2 separate regions of the Homo sapiens genome follow, and region 1 is linked to region 2. The links come from fine-mapping of genetic effects on gene expression. A gene starts in region 2. The other region holds a variant in brackets. All regions are shown on one strand. Distances are between the middles of the regions. Region 1 overlaps CABCOCO1 (ciliary associated calcium binding coiled-coil 1). Region 2 holds the start of CABCOCO1 (ciliary associated calcium binding coiled-coil 1).

Region 1 (2,882 bases), 75 kb before region 2:
GCCTCAGCCTCCCAAAGTGCTGGGATTACAGGCATGAGCCACTGCACCCAGCCAATATTTTTTACATAAGTCCATTCCTTTCCATTACCGTTGCTATATGCTAGCATTAAAAAAAAAAACTTAGCAATTTCCTAATTTTCCAATTAATCTCTCTGTCCCTAATCACTTTTCATTTCAAAATGTTGTTATAACATTGCCAAGTTACTTTGCTCAAAATACTGCTGTTATCATACCAGTCTCATGCTTAAAACTTGCAATCTAAATTGCTGTTTATAACATTTACATGAGAACTTTTACCAAAGATAGAATTTAAAAAATGAACTCAAATTTCTGAAGAATTAAAGCTACTTCCATATCTAGTAAATACTTTCAATTTGGATGAATTTGGTGGAAAGCTAGTCTAAATTTGAGAGCAGTCTGAATTATAGAATATTTCTAAATAAAACTTCACTTTCAAGTGGTAGCAATTCTCAACCTCTCGAGCAAGATTCCTAGAGAATTTATCCCTCATGGCCGAGGCATCCACTTTTGTAATGAGTTAATTTCTCTCCAATGCATCTAGAATCTTACTAGCTATGCAACTATCCTTGAGAAAATTCAGAAAATAGTCATTTAATCGTTTTCCGTAGAATGTAGTTCTCTTGCAGATCCCTATTAAAAAAGACTGGTATAGTAACTGACAGTGCTAATAAAAGGTTACAAGTTGAGATTCTGGATATACCTAAATGACTTAAGAAAAAAAAAACTCACTTGTAATTAGCAATGTCCATTTGCATATAAACAACAAATGCTGCCAAATTCAAACTGTTCTGCTTAAGAGAGCAAGAGCTGGTTTATAAACAGCCTCCATGTAATAGTCTCTAAATTATGAGTGTCTTTGTTTTTTTATAGACCAAAATTTACTATTAGTGCAGGCCAAGTTGATATATTTGAAATTCAAAGTTATTTGGGCTTGATTTAATATAGTTTTTACTGTGCATAATTTGCAAGAAGGTTCAAGCCACTACAACATTTATTGTACAATTGTTAAGACATAATGTAGACTACAATAATATTTAGTTACAATTATAAGACAACATATTTTTTTGAGAAGACAAAATATGTTATAATAGAGGTGATTCTGGACTTATCATTAAGATGTTTTGAATTTAAATATGTAAAAATTAAAGGTGGCTAATTTTTGTTTACTAGCAATATAATATTTGTTTACTAGCAAAAATATATTTGTTTACAAGCAATATAAAGTAGTGATATTGGTATATTTAGATGGTATTATATTTAGCTGTTAAAGTGACAGAAAATTCAAATTCCAGCAGCTTTGACCTGACAGTATTTTATCTTGCCTTCACATAAAAATCCAGAAATAGACAGTACCAAGCTGTATGGTGGCTCTGCTTTTCACAAAATCTTATGGGATCTAGGCTCCTGCTACCTTTCTGCTCCTGTAACTGGCCTCCATTCCTGTCTCTTTTGGGAGAGTAGATGGTAGATGAACGTATGCTGGCAAATTATACACAGTTGCAGCAAAATTTAATTTGCTGGTTTTCAGCCACTGGTTGTGCATCAGAATCACCATGGGGCATTTAAAAACTAGAGATGCCAAGCCCTACCCCAGACCTATTGAATTAGAATAGTGGTGGGGGAGGTGTCTTTGTTTTTTTTTTTTTTAAATAAGATATTTTATTTATTGTTTTTTTGTATAC[G/C]CTTTAATTGGTAAGTGAAGATATTTCCCACATTTTCCCCAGATATCATTTAAAAAAATTTTTATTTTAGTTTGGGGGTACATGTGGAGGTTTGTTACATAGGTAAACATGTGTCACAGGGGTTTGTTGTACATATTATTACATCACCCAGGTACTTAACTCAGTACCCAATAGTTATCTTTTCTGCTCCTCTCCCTCCTCCCACCCTCCTGCTTCAAGTAGACCCCAGTGTCTGTTGTTTCCTCCTTCGTGTTCATAAATTCTTATCATTTAGCTCTCGCTTATAAGTGAGAACATGTGGTATTTGGTTTCCTGTTCCTGTGTTAGTTTGCTAAAGATGATAGCCTTTGGCTCCGACCACGTTCCTGCAAAAGGCATGATCTTGTGCTTTTTTATGGCTGCATAATATTCCATGGTGTATATGTACCACATTTCCTTTATCCAGTCTGTCATTGATGAGCATTTAGGTTGATTCCATGTCTTTGCTATTGTGAATAGTGCTGCAACAAAAATTCGCGTGAATGTGTCTTTATGGTAGAATGCTTTATATTCCTCTGGGTATATACCCAGTAATGGGATTGCTGGGTCAAATGGTTACCAGTTCTGCTTTTAGCTTTTTGAGAAATCACCACACTGCTTTCCACAATGATTGAACTAATTTACACTCCCACCAACAGTGTAGAGGGGTTCCCTTTTCTCTGCAACCTCACCAGCATCTGTTATTTTTTGACCTTGTAATAATAGCCATTCTGACTGGTGTGAGACGCTATCTCATTGTGGTTTTGATTTGCATTTCTCTAATAATCAGTGATATTGAGCTTTTTTCATATGCTTGTTGGTCGCATGTATGTCTTCTTTGGAGCAATCAGGCAAGAGAAAGAAATTAAGGGCATCCAAATAGGAAGAGAGGAAGCCAAACTAGCTCTGTTTGCATATGACAAGATAATTCTCTATCTATAAAACCCCATAGTCTTGGTCCAAAAGCTCCTTCAGCTGATAATCAACTTCAGCAAAGTTGCAGAATACAAAATCAGTGTACAAAAATCACTAGTATTCCTACACATCAGCAGCAACCAAACTGAGAGCCAAATCAGAAAGGCGATCCCATTCACAACAGCCACAAAAAAACAATAAAATACCTAGGCAAACAGCTAATGAGGGAGGTGAAAGATCTCTGCA
Region 2 (2,930 bases):
CATAGCACTTCTTTACATCTTTTAAAAAATTTTGTATTTTTTTAAAGTCCAGATTCATTAAAACCCCCAAATGATCAGTCTTTTTGGAAAGGACATGGTCTACGTGGGTGAGCATATGTATGTGTACACTGATAATTGTGCATAGTCTTAAGCTTGGTATATATTTAAATAACACAATTTAATTGGAAAATTTCCTGTGCTACTTTTGAAATTGTATTACTTACATTAGAGATCACAAGGGAATAATAGGCTTAGTACCAGTTTATCACATTAAAATGTACTTTTAATGTCTGCTAATTTCAAAAGGCTCATATGAGAGTCCGCATGCCTTAGTGGTCTGCATTTTGTATTGGTAGGAATCTCGACTGGGAACAGCTTATATATCTCTGAGCAAGGCATGGAATTATTGGCTCCTTGTGTTTCCTCATTTATAAAATTGCAGCTAACACTTATCTTCTGCACAAAGAATGTCGTTTAGACCAACGAATAAGGAAGTCAAGCAAAGCAATGTTAATTAAGACATGATTATTCACCTTGAGAGCCTTAACAAAACGGAGGAAAAAAAACTTCCTAGGAACAATCGTAACAGACTCCGTGTGCAAAGATTTAAACTTTTTTTTTTATAATATCTGGCACAGCAGATGTGTTCTTAAAATCTCAGGATATTAAGTTTATGAGTAAAGTTACTTAAAACCCATTTATTATGGAGAGCTGGTGATGGGAGGGGCCTAAAGATCAACCTTTTGTCACACAGGAAGCCACTGGTGTCCAAGGAGATTAAATAACTTTCCTAAAGTCAAGCTGATGAGCAACTAAAGCCATAACCAGAGAAGATTTTCCAGCCAGTGTCCTTTCACCTGTATTTATTTGTTTAGGAAAATGGCAAAATAATGGAAACACCAATCTTCTAATATTAATCAGTCCATCACCAGTAAACAGTTATTATTTCATGACACCTTTTGAGCAATCGCAACACTGTAATCATTACAAAATTAGTAGCAATTTCAAAAAGAGACTGGCTCATTTAAAAATCTGAGATTACTTATTTTACCTAGAATTAAAAAAAAAAAAAACATGAAAAACCAAAAAACAAAACCTGCGGTAGAAGCGCGTGGTTATGAGGGCGTTTGGGCACGGAGCCGTCCAATGGAAGAATTCATACATTTAGACCCGCTGGCACCGTGCACGGCGCGCCGGGGCCGGCTGGGGGGCGCCGGGCTGCAGAGGGTGTCGGGGACCCCAGCGCAGCTCCCAGCCCTGCCGCCCTCCCAGGCCGCTCACCAGCCGGGGCCAGACGTGCGGCGCCTCTTCGGAGACCGGATTTGGCTTGGCCGCAGACTCCGCGGACTGGGAATGAGCGCTCGGAGGTCTCTGGTACCGGCACCGGTACCGGGAAGGGAAAGGGGCGGTGTACCTCCGATTCGGGCGTGGTTCCCGCCGGGGTCGGCCCCCAGGGAGTCGTCCCCTGCGACATCGCCGCAATCTCGGCCGAGAGAAGCGGCCCCTCGTCACCTAGGCAACTGGGGTGGGGCCGGCGTCCCTGGGCCTGGGAACAGATCCCAGCGGAAGGCGGCGCTGGGCCCGAGCCTCTGCCCGCCGGGTAGAGGGCTGGGGACCGCGCAGAGGAGCAGGAGGCCGGGAGGGAGGCCGACAGCAGCCCGCTACGGAGGCCCTGAATCCTCTGGGAGAGACCGAGTCTTTCCTGTTAGTAGGAGTGAAAGTGGGGAAAAGGCAATTCAAGTAGTAGTAATTTAAATGAAATATGTCAAAGTACCTAATGCTAGCACATTGCAAGTTTCAACAAATATTAAAGTAAGATATATTATTAGAACTTCAACCACTGATTGATGTTTGATACTAAGCAATCATTGTAAATTTTAAAGTATCATGATGGTATTGTGGTCATGTTTAGAAGGAAAAATATGTCTTTATCTTTTAGAGATACATGCCGAACAATTTAGTGATGATGAAATGATATAAAATATGTGATTTATTCCAAAATAATGAGGGAGGGGCACAGGAAATGAGTGGTGGTATAGCACATGCATCTAGATTAGGCATGTGAATGGAAGGGGTTCGATCTTTAATAGTGCACTTAATAGTACACTAGAAAGAAAGTGTACTATTCTCCTTTTGTATATGTTTGAAGTGTTCCACAACAAAAACATTTACAAACAATAAGAAATGTCACATAGCAGCATGAGTATTCTTGACTTCTTTGGATGATCAACGCCTCCTTTGAAAACGAAATGTACTTGGCTTGTATTTACCTGCATGTAGGTTGCTATGCAGGACACTTCCTGTGAAAATCAGACATCATTTAAGTGCTTCGGTTTCCTCATCTGTTAAATGAAATAACAGTATTGGCCTCAAAACATGACTGTGAAGATTGAACAGATTAATATATATATGAAAATGTTTATATCAGCCTTGACACCTAGTAGTGGTCTGTGTTTGATATTATTAGTGTTAGTATTAATATTGTGCTTCTCCTGATGTTAGTCCATATTGTAGACAGCTGCCAGGATAATATAATATTTCATCATGAACCTCTCCTTTATATTAGCCCATTGTCTTTTAGACCAAATATAACACATTAGCTTTATATAACCTCATGATAATTGTGCCTTTCCTTCAAATTGTCTCATAGTTCAAAGTATACAGTTTGTACTGTCAACCTGTGTTTATGAGTTGTCTCTAGTCTTGTAAATGTATGGCCCATCTTTTCAAGTGGGTTTTACTGTTTCCCTTGTTATTTTCACTTCTGAAGGAGCTAGTTTAGTTCTCAGTACAAAGAATGCATGCAACAATACATTTATGAATTACAACCCCATTTCAATAGGACCGTATTAAAATTTCTTCAATTGGTGAAAATATAGTCACTTTTTAGTGATTGCTAGAGTTAGTACAAAAGCCACCACTCACTACAG

Evidence for each region. PIP is the estimated chance that this variant, and not a neighbour inherited with it, causes the effect.
Region 1: its variant is the best candidate, but not a certain one, in a credible set for the expression of CABCOCO1 in sun-exposed skin (GTEx, PIP 0.57).

Annotation. Positions count from the first base shown.
Region 1 is chr10:61,736,841-61,739,722 of GRCh38, reverse strand. The region is part of intron 5 of CABCOCO1 (ciliary associated calcium binding coiled-coil 1); the gene reads right to left. Among named protein-coding and RNA genes, the nearest start is that of CABCOCO1, 75 kb to the right of the region's middle. The variant G/C (reference allele first, on the strand shown) is at 1,704.
Region 2 is chr10:61,661,517-61,664,446 of GRCh38, reverse strand. It overlaps CABCOCO1 (ciliary associated calcium binding coiled-coil 1), which reads right to left and starts at 1,518. Exons shown (of 8, transcript NM_001366906.2): 1 at 1,415-1,518. The coding sequence starts at 1,474.